4 linked regions of the Homo sapiens genome follow. Each later gene encodes a partner of the first gene's protein in a complex. Each region holds a gene or a part of one and is shown on either strand. Other genes may lie near its edges. A codon is read from its position in the direction of its gene.

The links.
Region 2: the proteins of GNAQ (region 1) and PLCB3 are in contact, whole or in part, in a cryo-EM structure (PDB 8UQO), measured with the Homo sapiens proteins. Residues at the interface, in NP_002063.2 of Homo sapiens: Pro185, Thr186, Thr187, Ile189, Glu191, Pro193, Arg202, Gln209, Arg210, Ser211, Glu212, Arg213, Arg214, Lys215, Trp216, Ile217, His218, Val240, Glu241, Glu245, Glu249, Glu250, Ala253, Leu254, Arg256, Thr257, Ile258, Thr260, Tyr261; in NP_000923.1 of Homo sapiens: Pro257, Arg258, Leu259, Asn260, Glu261, Val262, Leu263, Arg707 (codon at 981), Asp709 (codon at 987), Lys710 (codon at 990), Ile719 (codon at 1,017), Asp721 (codon at 1,023), Gly722 (codon at 1,026), Ile723 (codon at 1,029), Val724 (codon at 1,032), Ala725 (codon at 1,035), Ser845 (codon at 2,262), Asp846 (codon at 2,265), Tyr847 (codon at 2,268), Ile848 (codon at 2,271), Pro849 (codon at 2,274), His852 (codon at 2,283), Tyr855 (codon at 2,517), Ala856 (codon at 2,520), Ala858 (codon at 2,526), Leu859 (codon at 2,529), Ile860 (codon at 2,532), Asn861 (codon at 2,535), Pro862 (codon at 2,538), Ile863 (codon at 2,541).
Region 3: the proteins of GNAQ (region 1) and F2RL1 are in contact, whole or in part, in a cryo-EM structure (PDB 9D0A), measured with the Homo sapiens proteins. Residues at the interface, in NP_002063.2 of Homo sapiens: Arg37, Ile323, Tyr325, Asp346, Ile348, Leu349, Gln350, Asn352, Leu353, Glu355, Tyr356, Asn357, Leu358, Val359; in NP_005233.4 of Homo sapiens: His108, Pro109, Ala110, Met114, Gln172, Arg173, Val176, Ile177, Pro180, Met181, Gly182, His183, Ser184, Arg185, Met265, Met268, Leu269, Met274, Asp275, Asn277, Lys280, Lys281, Arg284, Ala285, Leu288, Ile289, Tyr344, Tyr345, Val347, Ser348.
Region 4: the proteins of GNAQ (region 1) and CCKBR are in contact, whole or in part, in a cryo-EM structure (PDB 7F8W), measured with the Homo sapiens proteins. Residues at the interface, in NP_002063.2 of Homo sapiens: Arg30, Arg34, Asp35, Arg37, Arg38, Leu40, Ser198, Val199, Phe341, Lys345, Asp346, Ile348, Leu349, Gln350, Asn352, Leu353, Lys354, Glu355, Tyr356, Asn357, Leu358, Val359; in NP_795344.1 of Homo sapiens: Thr87, Val88, Thr89, Asn90, Glu151 (codon at 311), Arg152 (codon at 314), Ala155 (codon at 323), Ile156 (codon at 326), Pro159 (codon at 335), Leu160 (codon at 338), Ala162 (codon at 344), Arg163 (codon at 347), Val164 (codon at 350), Trp165 (codon at 353), Gln166 (codon at 356), Thr167 (codon at 359), Ile241 (codon at 889), Leu245 (codon at 901), Gly248 (codon at 910), Leu249 (codon at 913), Val331 (codon at 1,366), Leu335 (codon at 1,378), His394 (codon at 1,555), Arg396 (codon at 1,561), Phe397 (codon at 1,564).

Annotation. Positions count from the first base shown.
Region 1 is NC_000009.12:77,715,597-77,720,851, reverse strand, and holds the end of GNAQ (guanine nucleotide-binding protein G(q) subunit alpha), read left to right. Parts: 3' UTR 1-4,755; downstream 4,756-5,255.
Region 2 is NC_000011.10:64,261,507-64,268,440, forward strand, and holds the end of PLCB3 (1-phosphatidylinositol 4,5-bisphosphate phosphodiesterase beta-3), read left to right. Parts: intron 1-74; coding exon 75-159; intron 160-445; coding exon 446-570; intron 571-679; coding exon of another isoform or gene 680-753; exon of another isoform or gene 754-860; intron 861-900; coding exon 901-1,055; intron 1,056-1,140; coding exon 1,141-1,302; intron 1,303-1,991; coding exon 1,992-2,091; intron 2,092-2,184; coding exon 2,185-2,289; intron 2,290-2,514; coding exon 2,515-2,606; intron 2,607-3,444; coding exon 3,445-3,598; intron 3,599-3,685; coding exon 3,686-3,721; intron 3,722-3,803; coding exon 3,804-3,996; intron 3,997-4,379; coding exon 4,380-4,533; intron 4,534-4,619; coding exon 4,620-4,696; intron 4,697-4,808; coding exon 4,809-4,898; intron 4,899-4,988; coding exon 4,989-5,046; intron 5,047-5,678; coding exon 5,679-5,765; intron 5,766-5,846; coding exon 5,847-6,050; 3' UTR 6,051-6,417; downstream 6,418-6,934. UniProt on the Homo sapiens protein: Catalyzes the production of the second messenger molecules diacylglycerol (DAG) and inositol 1,4,5-trisphosphate (IP3).
Region 3 is NC_000005.10:76,822,009-76,829,048, forward strand, and holds part of F2RL1 (proteinase-activated receptor 2 preproprotein), read left to right. Parts: intron 1-7,040. UniProt on the Homo sapiens protein: Receptor for trypsin and trypsin-like enzymes coupled to G proteins.
Region 4 is NC_000011.10:6,269,825-6,272,654, forward strand, and holds the end of CCKBR (gastrin/cholecystokinin type B receptor), read left to right. Parts: coding exon 1-96; intron 97-263; coding exon 264-513; intron 514-821; coding exon 822-979; coding exon of another isoform or gene 980-1,186; coding exon 1,187-1,719; 3' UTR 1,720-2,303; downstream 2,304-2,830. UniProt on the Homo sapiens protein: Receptor for gastrin and cholecystokinin. The CCK-B receptors occur throughout the central nervous system where they modulate anxiety, analgesia, arousal, and neuroleptic activity.

The sequences.
Region 1 (5,255 bases):
AGGACACATCGTTCGATTTAAGCCATCATCAGCTTAATTTAAGTTTGTAGTTTTTGCTGAAGGATTATATGTATTAATACTTACGGTTTTAAATGTGTTGCTTTGGATACACACATAGTTTCTTTTTTAATAGAATATACTGTCTTGTCTCACTTTGGACTGGGACAGTGGATGCCCATCTAAAAGTTAAGTGTCATTTCTTTTAGATGTTTACCTTCAGCCATAGCTTGATTGCTCAGAGAAATATGCAGAAGGCAGGATCAAAGACACACAGGAGTCCTTTCTTTTGAAATGCCACGTGCCATTGTCTTTCCTCCCTTCTTTGCTTCTTTTTCTTACCCTCTCTTTCAATTGCAGATGCCAAAAAAGATGCCAACAGACACTACATTACCCTAATGGCTGCTACCCAGAACCTTTTTATAGGTTGTTCTTAATTTTTTTGTTGTTGTTGTTCAAGCTTTTCCTTTCTTTTTTTTCTTGGTGTTTGGGCCACGATTTTAAAATGACTTTTATTATGGGTATGTGTTGCCAAAGCTGGCTTTTTGTCAAATAAAATGAATACGAACTTAAAAAATAAAAGCTGGTATCTTAAAATGTAAGAGAGTAAGACTGTGAAGCCTAAAATGACTGGCTGAGAATGAACCAGAAATGCCATTTGCCAAACAGTTGTAACTAGAAATTTGATTCTCACGGTCCATTCTTTTCTTTGTCCTTAAGATGACATTGTTAGTGTTCACGTCCCATGTTCAGTGTCCAAACCGGCAATGTAAAAAGTATCCTGTGTGGTTTAACAGGAAATCTGTTTATGTCTCTTTATTTGAAACCAGTTTTACTCTCAGTGGTTCTTTAAGTTCAATGAAGTCTGCCAGGAACATTGGTTGGTAGTATTATTCCGACACCTTTAATTTCCAAAATCTGAAGTTCCTGCTAGTTTACCACCTTCATGATCTTCTTGAACTGGTAACTGATTAGGTTGAACTTATGGAAGATTTGTGGACTTAACTCAAAAGTAACCTCTCAGTGTTCTATAGAACATGTATTTGTGTAACTGAACCTACCAGGAGAAATGTTTGGAATTCTATATGTGCAATTTTTCAACAAATGCAAAAAAAATACAGCACATGTATTGACAAGCTTCTGTCAAGCAGCTTGAGTTGAAATTTGATTTAAGAAAATAAATCATGATTGTTCAAAGCTGCTGGGACGTTAGAATTAGGCCATGATACTGGTCTCATTTTAACTACAGTGGTATTTGGCACTAGTGTAAACTTCCATATAAATCACTCTTTTGGAACAACAAAGGGGGAGGGAGAAAAATCACGGCCTGTTAAATGAGTACCAAAGCCGCCCAACAGTAATGAGATGTTCTCATCCTTGATTCTCCCAGCCTCAAACAACACAGCTTACTTTTTTTTTCCCTTGCTCAGAAAGTACCTGTAATTTAACAAACAGACTGCCTGTAGGTATAGTGCAATTACAAATGCTCTAATCATTGTACATACATCTCTCTTGATATTGCAGCATCCATACTGGCTTTGTAATCATTAATTTTTTGGCAGATTGAATGTGCTGTATTGATATGTATCTATGTAATTGTATTGTATGTCTATAGCTAATTCACGTTTTGAATAATGTTATTTTATTTACTTTTTTAAGAGAGGAGAATGTAAATTTGTCAGTTTATTTCTGACTAGGGATATTTTCTTTCCATTTAGAAAAGAAGAAAAAAAAAAAACCTTACTGTCATACAGAGCGGTACTAGCGTCGTGCTGTATAAAATCATTTGCACATTCCTGAGTAGAGGTATACTGATTATAAGACCCAAAGGTAATTTCATAGCAAAATACATAAAATCAGTCGGAGCTTTTATACAAACATGGAAACCAACTTTGTAGAACTTTTGCCATTTGATCTAGGATTGGAATATGAGCTTTTATACAATTCATATTCTTATTTGGCAAATGCACAGTTTAGTATTACCTCTCTGATGGCCTTTACTAGAAAGGCAGTTTTAGAAGCTATTGTGATCCACTAAGGAAATGTTTTAACAGCTAGAGACCACTGCTTGCCTGAAAGGGCGTTCTTAAATTTGGTGCAGCAAAAAAAAAAAAAAAAAAAAAAAAAATTAAACAACAACATTTGAAGGCCTACAGTGTGTATAGAGAAAACCTCATCACAAGATCATAAGTGTTACAGTTTTAGGGAATCAAGATATTCTATTTAATAGAGCTATAGTAAATGTAGTCAATTAAACCTGATCTCAAAGCTTGAAGAAGCTGAGCAAAACAGGGAAAGATTGTTATATTTGTCTTTATGAAATTGGGATGGAATTTGCTATGCAGAATTGAGGTTTGTGGCTTCGCTGTTCCTGTAGGGTGCATGACAAGATCCCTTCTCTTGAGAAAGGAAAAAATTGATCACCCTAGCAGCAGTGATGCATAGAAACCTAATTTTAGCCACACCAGTCAATCGAAGCTAAAGGATTTTCTTTTTTGTTTCTTCGGGGTTTTATTGAAGGGGCTAGGGGCGGGACGGGATTCTTTTCAGTTTTGTATAAAAACAAAGTTTACTCATGCTTTATATTATATTGTGATTGCAAGCGTTATAAGCGTGTGCCACTGGCCTCCTATTGTTGATGCTTAGGTAATGGAGGCCTGTGGTGAGTTTTATGGTGACTTGGGCATGTCTTATTCAAAAACAAAAACATAAAACACAGAAACCTTTCTTCAGCATACCAAGGCAAGCAGCCATTTCATGACTCACTTAACACATTGCAGTGTACCAGTTTACAGATGATTTTTCCCTTTTTGCGTGACATGGCAGTTCTAACCCCCAGAGAATTCCTTATTTGTAAATTGGAAGTTTCTACTATGCCTTACAGAGCTTAAATTCAGAAGTTTGTGCCTCATATCTGAAACAAAGGGAAATAACACACCCATTCAAAAGTAAATAAATCTCCTAGAAGTTTTTGTTTTTAACATTTCCATATAAAGAGCTCTGTTGAATGTCATGAATAGACTGGAAAAAAAAATTTTAAGAACCTGCATATGTTGTTTACTAGCAGATGACAACTACAAAAGGAATCTGAAGAACACGTAAAACTTGTATTTTTTTTTTTTTGGTAGATTAACTAGCAGGCCTATTTTAAAAAGGTAATTCAGCTAAAGGGCAATTTACTTTTTTGTACTTCAGACTATCTTGATTGTCAAAGTGTACGAACTGTAATTTTAAAATTTATACTGCCACATGATTGTAAATTTTAGTTGTCTTAAGTTAGGAATTGGTGAAAAGCTATTTATGCTGGATTTGGGTCAAAATGACTTATTTGCAAAAAAATAAATAATGGGAAGAAAGGGCTGTATAATGAAATACTGCAAGACTCACATATTGGTTGGAAATTTCCCTCAAATCACCTACCGATTACCCTTGATTTCCCTTTGTTTTCAGTTTCTCAAAACGAATGAAATGAAATATAGCAGAATGTTAACCCATATAAAAATAAAGTGTACCCAAATATTGTAATGTATATTGCTGCTCTTCTTCAAATTAAATAAGGGTTTAAAACCACTTAATTGGTAATCAACATCTCAATTGATACAAATAAGGTGTGCTTGGTATACATTAATATTTTCTTCCAAAGATATATCTTTGGTTAGAAACACAAAAAAATAAAACTAGTAATATTGTATGTTTATCTATCTCTACATATTTCCAGCATATGTAGCGTTAATAGATCTGTCCTGGTAACTGTGTCTTTGGGATTTCATTTTGGTTCCATCAAATTAGGAAAAGAAATGGCTTAGTTGTATATGATTAGCTAGAGATTTTTGGAGCCAGACACCTGCTGTTTAGTAGATAACTTAGTACAGACCCTAAACTTGTCATTTGTTTTTCTCACAGAATAGCCATTTCCTGCTGTCTTCCCAATGATCACTGCCCTTTCAATAACACTCTTGCCTCTAGAATCATATGTTCAAAGTATGAATACACACCTAGCACATAGTAGGTGCTCAAATATTAATTTCCTCCTTGCCTTCCTTATCTACCCTGTGTCCTCCATTTCCCCGTATGATTCCAACCCAATATAGCAAATGACATTTACATGTTATGAAAACATCTATTGGGTAAAATCAGATCTTGGATAAAGAAATTCTGACTTTTATATAAGCTTTTGGTAGACAGAAAAAACAGAAAGGTATTCGTTGGTAGAACATTTTTAAGTTCAGGAAAGAAAGCTGGAATAATACTACGTAACTTTGTCCAGGTTACTTTGACTGAAACACGTTTTTGGTGGATTTCTTTTCCTCAAAGAACTCTCTAAATGCAACTCCTTGCTGGATTCCTCACCCATCATCCTGTTGGAAACCCTTACTAGACCTATGTATTTAGGGAGTTTTGTCAGAAAACATTTTTAACTTGCAGTATTTAAAAGAATATTTACTGTTCCTAAAATGTCATTCAAATGCATGTACTGTCTATTGTTTGGGGATGGGAACTAGTTTTGCAAAAAACACCTAATGTTGTATAATAATGCCCCAATGATCTTGCTGGTTAAAAATACAGTATTTTTGGCCATAATTTTGTACTATAGTATTCTTCATTGTTGAGTTTTGCTTCCATTAAAGTTGCCCGAGCCCCTCTCAGAATGTTTTGTATTAGTAGGAGTACTGAAATACATCTTTCCTTCCTTAACACACCTTGTGCATATTGCATTTTCCAAAATAAACAAGTTTAATGGTTTCAAAAAAAAAAAAACACCAAAAAACCTTTTCCCTTCTGTGTATAATCAGAAATAAGAGTCTCCTGTAGTGGAAATACACATATTGGTAGCATTTATCAAATTTGCTCTTTGAAAAAACTTGCCTTAATTTAGGTTATAATTAACTGGTTAAAAAAAAAAGTAAATACCTATCCAATAAAGAAAGGAGCCAGCAATCTTCAACCTGAGGCAGTCTCCCAATCAGTAAAAAGAATCCACACATCTGCCCTGGTTTACTGGGTAGCACACTGGACTCAGGCCAATGGCTGGCTTAAGAGTTTTGCCCATTTCAACACTGGCAGTGAATAGGTAGACTCCACATGGGAAAAATGACATGTCACAGGTGTCCTCTCTGAGTTTTAGAAACACATCCAGGCTTTTGAGGTCAGCTAAAAATCAGCTGCTCCTGGGAGTTTTATTAAGTGGAGGTGATGGTGGCAAGTGGCTTTCTGGAAAATAGGTACTTTTGTGGGGACTTTAAGCCACAGCAAAAGCA
Region 2 (6,934 bases), on another chromosome or scaffold:
GTGGGTGGCAGGCATGGGAGCTTGCCCAGCTCAGCCCTGCCAGGTCTGACGCCCTTTCTTGGCTCACCCCTAAGAGAGGAACAAATGCTTCGAGATGTCGTCCTTTGTGGAGACCAAGGCCATGGAGCAACTGACCAAGAGCCCCATGGAGTTTGTGGAGTATCCTTTGAAGGTGCTGTGGGCGGGCAGGCCAGGGTGGGGCGCTCGGAGGCCGGCTCCGGTGTTCTGTCCCCACATATGCCACCTGCACAGGGTGCTGGCCCTCCGGCGGCCCTCCTGCACCCTGGCCTGGGGCTTGGGCAGATCCAGGCAGTCTCAGGGGGCATGGCTAGGCTAAGAAACAGAGGCCGGGTGTGGGGGTCACAGGAGCACCTGGCTGAGGCCGGAGGTGGAGGCTGATGGGGTGGGCCCTGGCACCTGTGTGGCCCCTGACCACCAATCTCAGATACAACAAGCAGCAGCTCAGCCGCATCTACCCCAAGGGCACCCGCGTGGACTCCTCCAACTACATGCCCCAGCTCTTCTGGAACGTAGGGTGCCAGCTTGTTGCGCTCAACTTCCAGACCCTCGGTGAGCCCTGGCCCCCTCCATCTTGACCCCGACCCTCAGTCTTACTGACTTCTGACCCACGATCCTGCTGGTCTTGCCTGAATGGACCTCTGACCCTGTCTCATCCCAGATCCCAGGGGAACCCAGCTCCCGACTCACCCCGCCTCCTGCCCTTGGCTGATACCAGACCCCTCCCCTGTCTGATCTGTCCTGGATCCGGACCCTGATGCCATTTGAGCCCGCCCCTGACCCTGGACCTTGGATGCCATCTGACCTGATGATCTCCCATTCCCCACATGGCACCGTCCTGCCTGATCCCTGCCCCTGCTCGACGTGCCCGTGGCACCCCAGATGTGGCGATGCAGCTCAACGCGGGCGTTTTTGAGTACAACGGGCGCAGCGGGTACCTGCTCAAGCCGGAGTTCATGCGGCGGCCGGACAAGTCCTTCGACCCCTTCACTGAGGTCATCGTGGATGGCATCGTGGCCAATGCCTTGCGGGTCAAGGTGGGGCTTGCGGGCGGCTCAGGCCAGGGGTGTCCTGGGGGCAGGACTCTCAGCATCCGCCTCACCCTCCTTGGCCCACCCCCAGGTGATCTCAGGGCAGTTCCTGTCCGACAGGAAGGTGGGCATCTACGTGGAGGTGGACATGTTTGGCCTCCCTGTTGATACGCGGCGCAAGTACCGCACCCGGACCTCTCAGGGGAACTCGTTCAACCCCGTGTGGGACGAAGAGCCCTTCGACTTCCCCAAGGTGAGCCTGGCCCCTGCACCCGCCCAGGCACAGGCAGATCCAGCCCAGACCGCCCCGACTCTCAGGTGGGAGAACAGGAACCAGGCACACCGTTGGCGACTGGGGATCAGAAAGTGGGGGGTGCCATGGGTCCCCCAGGACCTGCCTGTCCGAGCGTCAGTCTCCCTGCCCTCCTTAGGGTAAGAGACCAGGGTGAGAAGGTGAGATGGGGGTTGGGGGGTGTCAGCTAGACGTCTTGTGTCCCCTGCGAGGAGTGGACACAGCCTACCCTGTCTCCGAGGCAGGAGCTGAGGTCACAACCCCAAGCTCATATCCGCTCTTCAGCACCCCGCACGGCCCTGCATGGACGCGGCCTCTGCTCCCAGCCTGGGCATGTGTGTTCTTGGTTTCCTGCTCATGACTCACTCCCGTTTCTAAACTGGCAATGACCAGAACTGTCTGTGGGGGCCCTGGAGGGGCCTGGCTGCCTGTCATCTTGCCTCAGGGTCCTGATGGCTGCAGTCATCCATTAGGCCAGGACATGGAAGTGGGGTCAGCCATCAGCTTAGTGGCAATGGTGACTGATGGTCAGTAGGTCAGCTCGTCTGAAGGTCTGCTTTGTTAAGCTTTGATGGCTGTGGTTAGCTGTGGCCTGGTAGCCACAGTGGCCCAGGGTCAGCCCTGTGGCTCAGCTCCAGTCTGGCCCACAGGTGGTGCTGCCCACGCTGGCTTCACTTCGCATTGCAGCCTTTGAGGAGGGGGGTAAATTCGTAGGGCACCGGATCCTGCCTGTCTCTGCCATCCGCTCCGGTGAGGCCTTGGTGGGCTCTGGGCAGCACAGCGGGCAGTGGGTAGGGCCCCCACCTGGCCCAGCAACCCAACGTTGCCTTCCTGACCACCCAGGATACCACTACGTCTGCCTGCGGAACGAGGCCAACCAACCGCTGTGCCTGCCGGCCCTGCTCATCTACACCGAAGCCTCGGACTACATTCCTGACGACCACCAGGGTGAGCTGGGGGTGGGCGGGGCCTGCCTGGCCAGGGAGTGTGAGGGACAAGGGCCACCCCCAGGGCCTGGGAGTGGCCGAGCTGGATGGCCCCGACTGAGTAGGGAACTGAGTAGGGAACAGATCTGAGGACAAGCTCTGGAATTCCTCATTGAGACCAGAGGTGGCGGGTGGGGGTGGCCTGGGGGCTCTGTCTCTGAGACCTTGGCCTTCTGCCTCCCCCCAGACTATGCGGAGGCCCTGATCAACCCCATTAAGCACGTCAGCCTGATGGACCAGAGGGCCCGGCAGCTGGCCGCCCTCATTGGGGAGAGTGAGGTGAGCCGGGGCAGGGCAGGGCTCAGGCTCACTGTGACCCAGGGGGCCGCTGGACATGACTGCTGTGGCCACATGAGGAGGGGGCTTCTGGTCTCTCTAGCGCAGTAGGCTTGGCAGCCCTGGGATTTTGAGGAGATGAAAACCACCCATTTGCATTCAGGAGGCCTTCAGGTCACACCTGGGCTGGAATTCCTCCAGCTCCATGTAGGCTTGGAGTGGGGGTACAGGGGTCTCAGCCACTTCATCAGGGCAGTGCGAAGCCACAGAAGCTGTTCAGACGTGGTGTCCTGGGAGTCATGAGGAGGGCAGTGGCTTCCGTGGGGAGGGGTCAGGCACGGAGGTTCACCTGCGCTTCCAGATCCAGTCCCCCCAGGGCCTGCGGCAGGCGGGCGGGGAGAGATGACTGCAATTAGGGCTGCCTGGAGCTGTTAGCGGAGAGGCTGGTGCCCACTCTGCGGTTGAGTCCTCTGTTGATTTAATCAGGAGCTCAGCAGCAAGGAAAATGAGCGACTGTAGGCAAGGCTGGGGGACACAGGCAGGGGAGGAGAGGAGGCTTGGGGCTGGGCCAGGCCTTTCCAGAACAATCTGGGAGTTACTGAGCACATGCAGTGGGCTGGCATTATGTTATCTTCCCCACAGCCCATGTGGAAAAGGGGTTTAGAAAGGCTTGATTTATAGCTCTTCTCATGCAGACAGCCTCCTGTTACAGAGCAGTCCAGCAGTGGCTTGGACTAAGGGAGGCTGACAGGGGTGCTAGGGGACCCAGGAGGTGGTAGAGGACAGAAGGGTCTGGAGGGAACAGCATTTCTGAAAAGAGCATTCTCCTTTCTCCCTATAGGCTCAGGCTGGCCAAGAGACGTGCCAGGACACCCAGTCTCAGCAGCTGGGGTCTCAGCCGTCCTCAAACCCCACCCCCAGCCCACTGGATGCCTCCCCCCGCCGGCCCCCTGGCCCCACCACCTCCCCTGCCAGCACCTCCCTCAGCAGCCCAGGTAAGGAGTGGCCTGGGTCGGGGGTGGGCTGCAGGGAGGCACCCCCCACCCTGTCCTCCAGCTCCTCACAGGGCCTCTGCTCCCCAGGGCAGCGTGATGATCTCATCGCCAGCATCCTCTCAGGTAGGGGGCGGGGTACCTGGAGGCAGGGGGCTGCCTTGCAGGTTCCCCCACCCCCCGCCCACCTTTGCTCTGCCGCTCCCAGAGGTGGCCCCCACCCCGCTGGATGAGCTCCGAGGTCACAAGGCTCTGGTCAAGCTCCGGAGCCGGCAAGAGCGAGACCTGCGGGAGCTGCGCAAGAAGCATCAGCGGAAGGCAGTCACCCTCACCCGCCGCCTGCTGGATGGCCTGGCTCAGGCACAGGCTGAGGGCAGGTGCCGGCTGCGGCCAGGTGCCCTGTGAGTGTCTGGGCCGCCTGTGTGCTATGTGTGCTGGGTGTGCTGATGTGAACATGGGGGTCGGTGGGCATGGAGAGATGGCAAGAGCTGCTCCTTGACCCCCAGGGAGGAGGGTTCAGTGCAAGGATGGAGGAGGCTTTCCACACCAGGCGTCCCTGTGTCCCCCAGGGAGTGACATCTCTTTTGAAGTCCATGAGGAGCATGTTGCCCAAACAGGCTCCCATCACTTGGGTGGAGCTAACAGGCCTCCTGGTTTGCATAACAGACCTGGCCCCATGGGATGGTGTCTGCCATCGCTTGCCAGGATGTGCCCCCCTACACACCCTCCCCATCCCAGTCCATGTGACGGGCCCAGGCATCACCCAGAGGGGTTCTCCTCGCAGAGGTGGGGCCGCTGATGTGGAGGACACGAAGGAGGGGGAGGACGAGGCAAAGCGGTATCAGGAGTTCCAGAACAGACAGGTGCAGAGCCTGCTGGAGCTGCGGGAGGCCCAGGTGGACGCAGAGGCCCAGCGGAGGCTGGAACACCTGAGACAGGTAGGGGGCCTGCAGTGGCCAGGGAAAGCCTGCTGGATAGACCCGTCGTCAGCCCGGCATCACCTGTCAGCTCCCTGTGTCCACAGGCTCTGCAGCGGCTCAGGGAGGTCGTCCTTGATGCAAACACAACTCAGTTCAAGAGGCTGAAAGAGATGAACGAGAGGTGAAAGCCGAGGATTGTCTATGGGAAGGGCTGGGGACTTCTAGTACCAGAAGGAGGGCAGAGTCTGTGCTTCTGCCGCTGACCCCTCCTCTTCCCCTGCCGGCTTCTCCAGGGAGAAGAAGGAGCTGCAGAAGATCCTGGACAGAAAGCGCCATAACAGCATCTCGGAGGCCAAGATGAGGGACAAGCATAAGAAGGAGGCGTAAGGGCACCGGGACCGGGGGCCATCTGGGTACTGGGGAGGCAGGGCAGGTGTCTGGGCCCCGAGCCATCCTGCGTTGCTCCCGTGCAGGGAACTGACGGAGATTAACCGTCGGCACATCACTGAGTCAGTCAACTCCATCCGTCGGGTGAGTCAGGCTCCCGGGCCACCCTACCCCACCTCCCTTCCTTCACTCATCAGACACCCATCTCCATGCCTGGCCTGGTGCCACGTTGCCCTCAAGGTTCTTCTAGGGCCTTTCTCAAGTGCCCAACAGCCCCAGGGTACCCACATCATACCCAAAGCCAACTGTCTGTACCAGTGTCCCTGGCTTTGGCGTCCTTGGGCCCAGTCCTCTCACAACCCTGATACATTGCCCTGGGAGCCTTCGCCCACCTGACTTCTTTTTCTTTGAGACAGAGTCTCACTCTGTCGCCCAGGCTGGAGTGCAGTGGCGCGATCTTGGCTCACTGCAACCTCTTGGGTTCAAGCAATTCTCTTGCCTCAGCCTCCCGAGTAGCTGGGATTACAGGCATCCGCCACCATGCCTGGCTAATTTTTTTATTTTTAGTAGAGATGGGGTTTCACCATGTTGGCCAGGCTGTTCTCGAACTCCTGACCTCAGGTGATCCGCCCGCCTTGGCCTCCCAAAGTGCTGGGATTATAGATGTGAGCCACTGCACCCGGCCTCGCCCACCTGACTTCTATACCCAGCCAGAGCCTCGAGGCTCTAGCCCCTCCCTCAGGGCCCCTCAGCTGAGCCCTTGCCCACCCCTGTAGCTGGAGGAGGCCCAGAAGCAGCGGCATGACCGTCTTGTGGCTGGGCAGCAGCAGGTCCTGCAACAGCTGGCAGAAGAGGAGCCCAAGGTGAGGCCATGGGCGAACAGGTGGGCAGACGGGGTGCAAGGCAGCCAGGCCTCGCCTGTGATGCCCATCCTTCTCCCACAGCTGCTGGCCCAGCTGGCCCAGGAGTGTCAGGAGCAGCGGGCGAGGCTCCCCCAGGAGATCCGCCGGAGCCTGCTGGGCGAGATGCCGGAGGGGCTGGGGGACGGGCCTCTGGTGGCCTGTGCCAGCAACGGTCACGCACCCGGGAGCAGCGGGCACCTGTCGGGCGCTGACTCGGAGAGCCAGGAGGAGAACACGCAGCTCTGAACTGGCTGAGCGAGGTGGCCACAGGGCCAGGGCGGGCGCTGGGTGGAGGGCAGGAGGCAATGACACTAATGCTTTTTTTTTTTTTTTTTAACTTTTTATCTAGAAATTTTATTTTTTTAAACCCGGGGCAAGTACCTCAGCTAACTCCCTTCATCCTCCTGGGGCCCCTCCTTCCTGCCCTCAGTCTTAGGTTAGGGCCTTGGTCAGGGCTTTGCTCCCTGTGACACCCACACCCTCGAGCTAGCAGCGTCTCCTCCCTTCCCCGGGAGAGCTGGCTGGAGACTTGGAGCTCCGGGAAGTAGGAGTCACATTTTTTTCTCTATTCTTTGGGGATTTTTTTTACATGAATAAAAGTGGATTTCAGGGACCCTGTGTGCAGTGTGATTTGGGGTGACAGGACTCTGGGCCCTAAGTTTCCTCATCTATAAAATGGACTTTGGGCATTTGGTGGGGTTGAGGTCACGCCTCCAGCCAAGGGCTGCTGGGTTGAACCTGAGCTTGCCCTGCCGAGTCTGCTGAGCTTCCGTGGCCTTCTGCTTGTGCCCTCTGCCCCCAAGCCGCTGTTCCTGTTCCCCCATCCCCATGACTTTCGTCTCTCCGAGGCTCTCCCTGTTCTCTCTTTTCTGAGGCTCAGGCCTCTGCTTCAGGAAGCCTTCCCTGCCCCGCTTCCTGTGGCCTGATATGACCCAAACGCCTAGTATCTTCCGCTGGGGCTGCTCTGGGCCCCCGACAGGCAGTTGACTCTATCAGGTGATGGATCGGCCAGGGTGGAGCAGGGCAGCTCAGAACCTGCCCAACACCGGGGGACCTGGGTCTTCAGAAATAGGTGGGCAGTAGGCCTGCCTGTGACTCTGGGGGAAGGGAAGTGGACAGTCACAGACACG
Region 3 (7,040 bases), on another chromosome or scaffold:
TCGGCTTATATATTTTCCCACTCTTTATTACATCCATGCACAAAATATGTATTCACAAATACAGAAAATATGTTTGTGCAAGTATGGGATTATATAAGCACATCAGTATCATGTCAATACATATAAAACATTTTTAATGACTCCAAAATGTTACAGAAGGATGCATCAATTTTAAAATTAGTCCTTTGTTGATAGACATGTGGTATTTCCATTTTTTTTTTCCCCCTGAGATAGAATCTCACTCTGTTGCCCAGGCTGTAGTGCAGTGGCACGATCTCGGCTCACTGCAACCTCTGCCTCCCAGGTTTAAGTGATTCTCATGCCTCAGCCTCTGGAGTAGCTGGGACTACAGGCGCACACCACCACATCCAACTAATTTTTGTGTTTTTGGTATAAACGGGGTTTCGCCACGTTGGCCAGGCTGATCTTGAACTCCTGACCTCAAGTGATCCACCTGCCTCAGCCTCCCAAAGTGCTGGGATTATAGGCATGAGCCACCGTGCCTGGCCAAAGTTTTGTAATATGACAGAACACTGCAATGAACTGGAAGATAGGACTTTAAATTTGATCCTTTTGCTTGCTTTGTAGTTACTAAATAACCTTGATAGATGATGTTTTAGTAAATCTGTATTTGACTTTCTTATGGTTTTATTAGCTTGGCAAGTGTTGAAGAAAACAGTTCATTCTGAAAGAACACTTCTGAAAATGTACTAAAAGTTTAGCTAGGGAGGGGCACCCCACAATTGAAACCTTTATTTTTCAGTCTGTGCTCCCAAAGATTGGGAGCAAAAAAGGACATTTGGGGTGAGGGGATCATAGAGAAGAGAGGGTGAAAGGAAGAGAACTAATGCAAGTAAAGTGCTTGTTTTACACTTGGTTTGATGGGGAGGTTGGGCCACAAGAGGAGTATACTTAAAATAAAAATTAAATTAAAAGTTTTAGGCCAAGCGTGGTGGCTCACGCCTGTAATCCCAGCACTTTGGAAGTCAAGGCGGGTGGATCACAAGGTCAGGAGATCAAGACCATCCTGGCTAACATGGTGAAACCCTGTCTCTACTAAAAATACAAAAAATTAGCCGGGCATGGTGGCGGGCGCCTGTAGTCCCAGCTGCTTGGGAGGCTGAGGCAGGAGAATGGCGTGAACCCGGGAGGTCGAGCTTGCAGTGAGCCGAGATCGTGCCTCTGCACTCCAGCCGGGGCAACAGAGTGAGACTCAGTCTCAAAAAAAAAAAAAAGTTTTACACGCAGATTTTCCCAAAATTGTGTAAATCAGAAGGGTCTAAAAAAAAGTGAAAATCTCTCATTCTTTCTGGTCTCCAATCTCAGCACAACTTCTCGGGTTTTGTTTGTTTGGTTGGTTGGTTTTTTTTTTTTTTTTTTGAGATGGAGTCTCGCTGTGTCGCCCAGGCTGGAGGGCTGGAGTGCAGTGATGTGATCTCAGCTCACTGCAACCTGCGCTTTCCAGGTTGAAGTGATTCTCCTGCCTCAGCCTCTCAAGTAGATGGGATTACAGATGCGCGCCAACACCTCCAGCTAATTTTTGCATTTTTAGTAAAGCCAGAATTTTGCCATGTTGGCCAGGCTGGTCTTGAATTCCTGACCTCAAGTGATCCGCCCGCCTTGGCCTCCCAAAGTGCTGGGATTATAGGTGTGAGTCACTATTCCTGGCCATCAGCTCAACTTCTCTATGCACAAATGATTTATAGGAATAGAAGGAGCATACCGTACTGTACATACTGTGCTATGATTTATTTATCTTTTTTACCTAATCGATTCATAGTCAGTTTATAGAAATCTGTACAAACTTTTTTTTTTTTTTTTTGAGACGGAGTCTTGCCGTGTCGCCCAGGCTGGAGTGAAGGGGCGCTATCTCAGCTCGCTGTAAGCTCTGCCTCCCGGGTTCATGCCATTCTCCTGCCACAGCCTCCCAAGCAGCTGGGACTACAGACGCCCGCCACCATGCCCGGCTAATTTTTTGTATTTTTAGTAGAGACAGGGTTTAACCGTGTTAGCCAGGATGGTCTCGGTCTCCTGACCTCGTGACCCACCTGCCTCGGCCTCCCAAAGTGCTGGGATTACAGGCGTGAGCCACTGCGCCGACCCTGTACAAACTTTTATAGGGGGGTAATTGAACTAGTCCTCCCCACCACACCCCCCCCCCCTTTTTTTTTTAAAGAGACTGGGTCTGGCTGTCACCCAAGCTGGAGTGCAGTGGCAGGATCATAGCTCACCCCCAGCTAATTTTTTTTTTAGACGGAGCTCCCAAGTAGCTGGGGCTATGGCTAGGTTGCCACTATGCCTGGCCTGAACTACTCCCCTCTTCCCGCCCATCCCCGAACCCCAGATGAAGTCTTGCTCTGTCACCCAGGCTGGAGTGCAGTGGTGTGATCTCAGCTCACTGCAACCTCCGCCTCCCAGGTTCAAGCCTCCCAGGTTCAGCCTCCCAAGTAGCTGGGATTACAGGTGCCCGCCACCACACCCAGCTAATTTTTGTATTTTTAGTAGAGACGGGGTTTCACCATGTTGGCCACGCTGATCTCAAACTCCCGATCTCATGATCCGCCCGCCTTAGCCTCCCAAAGTGCTGGGTTTACAGGCGTGAGCCACCCTGCCAGGGCCTGAACTACTCCCCTTTTTGATAGATGTTGAAATTAACATTGTTTTACCATGCTAAACAATGTTCCAGTGAATATTCTAGTACATAAAATAGCTTTGTGCACTTTAGCTGGTAGGTGCAGGGCAAATTCCTAGAAGTAAATTGCTAGGTCATATGGCAAATACATTTAAAATTTTGATATGTTTTGCCAAATTACCCACCAAAAATATTATATCAATTTATATTCCTTTGAGATACAAAATTCAAATAATATAGAGAGGTGTAAAATAAAAAGAAAAGTTCTCTTGTCCCCAGCTATTCTACTCCACAGAGCCAGCCACTTTTTATTGTTTGGTGGATATCCTTCTAGACTTCAGATTTTGCAAATTGTACATTATAATTTTTTTTTTTTTTTTTTTTTGAGACAGAGTCTCACTCTGTTGCCAGGCTGAAGTGCAGTGGCATGATCTCGGCTCACTGCAACCTCTGCCTTCTGGGTTCAAGCGATTCTCCTGCCTCAGCCTCTGGAGTAGCTGGGACTACAGGCGCGTGCACTACACTTAGCTAATTTTTGTATTTTTTAGTAGAGATTGGGTTTCACCATGTTGGTCAGGATGGTCTCGATCTCTTGATCTCAGGATCCACCCGCCTCGGCCTCCCAAAGTGCTGGGATTACAGGTGTGAGCCACCATGCCTGGCCAGTTTCTTTTTTCAATTGACTGTATATTGTGGCTGTCTTTCCATTTCAATATTATTGGCTACTATATTGTCTACCCTTAGTAGTAGGGACTACGTCAGGGACATGCTAAGTTAGGAATAGAAATAAGGAGCTGTTTGTCTGTAACTGAGTGGGGGGATGCTGCCTTGAGCATCTGTGAGTGTGTATTTTCACACACTTGGGCAATAATTGTTTATTACAGCCCTAGAAATGGGAATGTAATTGTAGCCAGGCACTTTATTTGTGTTTAAACTTCATTTGTGCATTTAGTCTCTCCTCAACTCTGTGAAATAGAAATGATTTTACCTGGTTGACAATTGGGAGCTGGGATAGCATCGGTTCTCTAGACAAGCTCTGTGAGTTTTGGTGAGTGGTAAGGACCCTGTACAGAGTCAGAGCAAATGCACTGGGCAAGGGCTTCAGGGACCTTCGAGTAGCATCTTGACATTTACCAGTGTTATAGAACAGTTAATATCAACAATAGTTTTGATGGAGACCATTAAAGGTTATGTGTTGAAATATTCTAAGAAAAAGTTCCTTTTTAAAAAAAAATTGTTATATTGCCATTCCTTGCTCCTTTTTTGGTCTTTATTTTAGCATTCTTATTTAAAACAGATTTTGAGCACTCTTTATGTGAGCTTTCCTGACTTGGTACATGCTTATTTTTATGGAGAATTTTAATCTTATAGAAATATACTATTATAGTGAATTAAGTGTATCCACCACTCAACTTCAATAATTATTAACTGTTGGCTAATCTTGTTTCATCTATTCCCAAACTCACCTCCCACTCCTCTTCCCTGTTATTTCTTTTCTGTTTTTTTCCCTTTCCTATGATGCCAAGCCTGTGTTTTTTTTTTAACAGCTTTACCAAGAATTCCATATCAGATAATTTGCACACCATACAATTCACCCCTTTAAACTGTACAATTTAGTGGCTTTTAGGATGTTCATAGAATTATTCAACCATTACCACAATTTTAGAACATTTTTATTACCCTGGAAGAAACAGTTTAGCTGTCATTCACCAATCTTCTGGTCTTAGCCCTTGGCAAACACTAATCTACTTTCTATTTATGGATTTGCCTATTGTAGACATTTGATAGAAATGGGATAATGTGTTGTCCTCTGTGACTGGCTTCTTTCACTTAGCATAATCTTTTGGAGATTCATCCATGTATCTATGTATCAGTACTTTTTTTTTTTTTTGAGACAGAGTCTTGCTCTGTCACCCAGGCTGGAGTGCAGTGGTGCAATCTCTGCAACCTTTGCCTCTAGTTTCAAGTGATTCTCCTGCCTCAGCCTCCTGAGTAGTTGGGACTGTGGGCCCACACCACCACCTCTGGCTAATTTTTGTATTTTTAGTAGAGACTGGGTTTCACCATGTTGGCCAGGCTGGTCTTGAGCTCCTGACCTCAGGTGATCTGCCTGCCTCAGCCTCCCAAGTACTTGATTTTTGAAAACAGCCAAATAATATTCCATTGTATGGATATACTGCTTTTTATTTCTTTTCAATTGTTGATGGACATTTGGATTGTTTCCACTTTTTTTTCCTTTTTTTGAGACAGGGTCCTGCTCTGTTGCCCAGGCTGGAGTGCAGTGGTGTAATCTCTGACCTCCTAGGTTCAAGCTGTCCTCCTGCCTCAGCCTTCCTAGTAGTGGGACTACAAGTGTGCACCACTATGCCTGGCTAATTTTGTAAAATGTTTGTAGAGATGGGGTTCTGCTCTGTTGCCCAGGCTTGTCTCAAATTCCTGGCCTCAAGCACTTCTCCCATCTCATCCTCCCAAAGTGATAGGATTACAGGTGAGCACCACTGTGCCCAGCCCACTTGTTGACTGTGGGCTGGGCACAGTGCTATATTATAATGCTGCTATGGCTGGGCGTGGTGGCTCACGCCTGTAATCCCAGCACTTTGGGAGGCCGAGGTGGGCGGATCACAAGGTCAGGAGATCGAGACCATCCTGGCTAACACTGTGAAACCCCATCTCTACTAAAAATACAAAAAAAAAAAAAAAAAAAAAAAATTAGCCAGGCGTGGTGGCAGGCGCCTGTAGTCCCAGCTACTGGGGAGGCTGAGGCAGGAGAATGGCATGAACCCGGGAGGCGGAGCTTGCGGTGAGCCGAGATCGCGCCACTGCACTCCAGCCTGGGCGACAGCGAGACTCCGTCTCAAAAAAAAAACAAAAACAAATAATGCTGCTATGAACATTTGTGTACAGGTTTTTGTGTGGACTCCTGCATACCTGGGAGTGGAGCTACTGGGTCATATAGTAACTTTTTTTTTTTTTTTTTTTTTTGAGACGGAGTCATGCTCTGTTGCCCAGAGTGCAATGGCACAGTCTAGGCTCACTGCAACCTCCGCCTCCCAAGTTCAAATGATTCTCCTGTCTCAGCTTCCCGAGTAGCTGGGACTATAGGCGTGTGCCACCACACCCAGCTAATTTTTGTATTTTTAATAGAGATGGGGTTTCACCATGTTAGCCAGGTGGGCTCAAAACCCCGACCTCGTGATCTGCCTGCCTCAGCCTCCCAAATTGCTGGGATTACAGGCGTGAGCCACTGCGTCCAGCCATATAGGAACTCTTTAACCATTTGAGGAACTGCCAGATAATTTCCCACAATAACTGTACCTTTTATTTTATTTTATTTTATTTATTTTAAATAGACATGGTTTCACTCTGTCGCCCAGGCTGGAGTGCAATGGCGTGATCTTGGCTCATTGCAACCTGTGCCTCCCGGTTCAAATGATTCTCCTGTCTCACCCTCCCAAGTTGCTGGGATTATAGGTGTATGCCACCACACCTGACTAATTTTTGTATTTTTAGTAGAGATGGGGTTTCACCATGTTGGCCAGGCTGGTCTCGAACTCCTGACCTCAGGTGATCCACCCACCTCGGCCTCCAATAGTGCTGGGATTAGAGGTGTGAGCTACTCTGCCCAGCCGTGCACCAGTTCGTATTCCTACCAGCAGTGTCTGAGAGTTTCAATTCCTGTGGTTGTGAAATAAATCTCAGATATAATTTCATCCTAAAGTATTTTAGAATGTATTAATAAAGTATGAGGGATTTCTTTTTCAAATATAAACATAATGCCATTATAGTATCTACTAACATTAATTTTTAATATAATCAAATATTCAGTCAGTATTCAAATTTCTTTCTTTTTTTTTTTTTTTTAATATAGAGACAGGGGCCTCACTCTGTCACCCAGAGTGGAGTGCAGTGGCACAATCTCACTGAATCATTGAACTCCTGGTCTCAAGTGATCTTCCTGTTTCAACTTTCCAAGTATCCAGGACTACAGGTGTGCGCCACCATGCCTGGCTAATTTTTTTTTTTTTTAATTTTTTGTAGAGACACGGTCTTGCTATGTTGGCCAGGCTGGTCTCAAACTCTTGGCCTCGAGCAATCCTTCCACGTCAGCCTCGCAAAGCACTGGGATTATAGGCATGAACAACCGTGCCTGGCTTTGTGTTCAAATTTCTAATTGTCTTATAAATGTTATTTTAGGCCGGGTGCAGTGGCTCATGCCTGTAATTCCAGCACTTTGGGAGGCTCAGGTGGGCAGATCACTTGAGATCAGGAGTTCGAGACCAGCTTGACCAACATGGTGAAACCCCATCTCTACTAAAAATACAAAAATTAGCTGGATGTAGTGGTGTGCACCTGTAATCCCAGCTCCTTGGGAAGCTGAGGCAGGAGAATTGCTTGAACCTGGGAGACG
Region 4 (2,830 bases), on another chromosome or scaffold:
TGGCTGTGGCTTGCATGCCCTTCACCCTCCTGCCCAATCTCATGGGCACATTCATCTTTGGCACCGTCATCTGCAAGGCGGTTTCCTACCTCATGGGTGGGTGAGACAACCACCCCACCCCCACTTGCCACTCTCCCCGCCTAAAGCTCTTGTGGATGTAGGGGTCTTCCCCGGTTGGCAGGGAGGGGTGTGAGGAAGTCCCACTGATGCTTGTGTAGTGCAAGTTTCCTAGGTGACTCCTTCCTTTCTCTTCCCTTGTTTAGGGGTGTCTGTGAGTGTGTCCACGCTAAGCCTCGTGGCCATCGCACTGGAGCGGTACAGCGCCATCTGCCGACCACTGCAGGCACGAGTGTGGCAGACGCGCTCCCACGCGGCTCGCGTGATTGTAGCCACGTGGCTGCTGTCCGGACTACTCATGGTGCCCTACCCCGTGTACACTGTCGTGCAACCAGTGGGGCCTCGTGTGCTGCAGTGCGTGCATCGCTGGCCCAGTGCGCGGGTCCGCCAGACCTGGTGAGCTTGCCCATAAACTATCCTAGGAATTCCTTTCTCACCCCTATTAGATGCTTACGACCATTGCCCAGAATCTTCCTCCAGCTTCCCGGAGAATTACCACGCCAACTCCTATTCTGCATCCACCACCCTGGAGTTCCAGTTTGGGGCCCCTCCCCAGTTCTCTCTCCCTTCCCAGCGGCACCCCCAAATCCTACTCCTACTTCAGGTACCTGGCCACAGCCCTAGAAACACTAGTCCTTGGCTTTTTCTCCATCTGTGATTACAGCTGGACAGAAACCCGAGTGATCTGTCTGTGTTGCCTTCAGGTCCGTACTGCTGCTTCTGCTCTTGTTCTTCATCCCGGGTGTGGTTATGGCCGTGGCCTACGGGCTTATCTCTCGCGAGCTCTACTTAGGGCTTCGCTTTGACGGCGACAGTGACAGCGACAGCCAAAGCAGGGTCCGAAACCAAGGCGGGCTGCCAGGTGGGGCTGGACCACGTGAGCAAAATCTGGGCGAGGCGGAGCTTTGGAGGGCGACGGGGCCTGCTGGAGTGGGTGGGACTGAAATGAAGGTGAGGGTGAGAAGGAAGCTGGAAATGGAGTTGAGCTGGGAGCGGAGGTCAGGTGGGGACTGGGCTGGAGACTGGGGGGACTCGCCTTTTTCTCTGACCGCCCACCCTTTGTGCTCAGGGGCTGTTCACCAGAACGGGCGTTGCCGGCCTGAGACTGGCGCGGTTGGCGAAGACAGCGATGGCTGCTACGTGCAACTTCCACGTTCCCGGCCTGCCCTGGAGCTGACGGCGCTGACGGCTCCTGGGCCGGGATCCGGCTCCCGGCCCACCCAGGCCAAGCTGCTGGCTAAGAAGCGCGTGGTGCGAATGTTGCTGGTGATCGTTGTGCTTTTTTTTCTGTGTTGGTTGCCAGTTTATAGTGCCAACACGTGGCGCGCCTTTGATGGCCCGGGTGCACACCGAGCACTCTCGGGTGCTCCTATCTCCTTCATTCACTTGCTGAGCTACGCCTCGGCCTGTGTCAACCCCCTGGTCTACTGCTTCATGCACCGTCGCTTTCGCCAGGCCTGCCTGGAAACTTGCGCTCGCTGCTGCCCCCGGCCTCCACGAGCTCGCCCCAGGGCTCTTCCCGATGAGGACCCTCCCACTCCCTCCATTGCTTCGCTGTCCAGGCTTAGCTACACCACCATCAGCACACTGGGCCCTGGCTGAGGAGTAGAGGGGCCGTGGGGGTTGAGGCAGGGCAAATGACATGCACTGACCCTTCCAGACATACGAAACACAAACCACAACTGACACAGGAAACCAACACCCAAAGCATGGACTAACCCCAACGCACAGGAAAAGGTAGCTTACCTGACACAAGAGGAATAAGAATGGAGCAGTACATGGGAAAGGAGGCATGCCTCTGATATGGGACTGAGCCTGGCCCATAGAAACATGACACTGACCTTGGAGAGACACAGCGTCCCTAGCAGTGAACTATTTCTACACAGTGGGAACTCTGACAAGGGCTGACCTGCCTCTCACACACATAGATTAATGGCACTGATTGTTTTAGAGACTATGGAGCCTGGCACAGGACTGATTCTGGGATGCTCCTAGTTTGACCTCACAGTGACCCTTCCCAATCAGCACTGAAAATACCATCAGGCCTAATCTCATACCTCTGACCAACAGGCTGTTCTGCACTGAAAAGGTTCTTCATCCCTTTCCAGTTAAGGACCGTGGCCCTGCCCTCTCCTTCCTTACCCAAACTGTTCAAGAAATAATAAATTGTTTGGCTTCCTCCTGAACTTCCTTTCTGGATTCTTCTGGGGCAGGTGAGGAGGCATAGGATTTTGCAGTATCCTTCTGTCGGGTCTCTCCCACTGTTGCACACTGCTGTGCACAACCCCTTGCCAGAAAGCCCAGCCTCTGAGGTTCAGCGTGGCTGTGCATATTCTTTCTGAGTTTTCATCCTCTACCTACATTCCAATGTTGCAATAACTGTGAATGGGGATGGAAAATGGCATATCCATGACATATCATGATTCCTGATCACATTATCCCAAAGTGGTGCCACTGTTAAGGTACTATATTAATGGATGCTTATTAAATTTTGATGAAAAGATAAAAGAGGAAGCACTGTATAATAAGACTAAGTTTATTCAATGTGTGTTTGAAACACCAGAGATCAGACCATGACAGGTATACAGAATGAATACAGTTAATTAAAGAGTAGGGATTTTTTGCTGTACTCTCTTCCCCAGTGTCAAAACCTGGCCAAGATTCTGCCAAATGGAAGCACTTTTAGTAGCTACAACAAAAAAAGACCTGAATA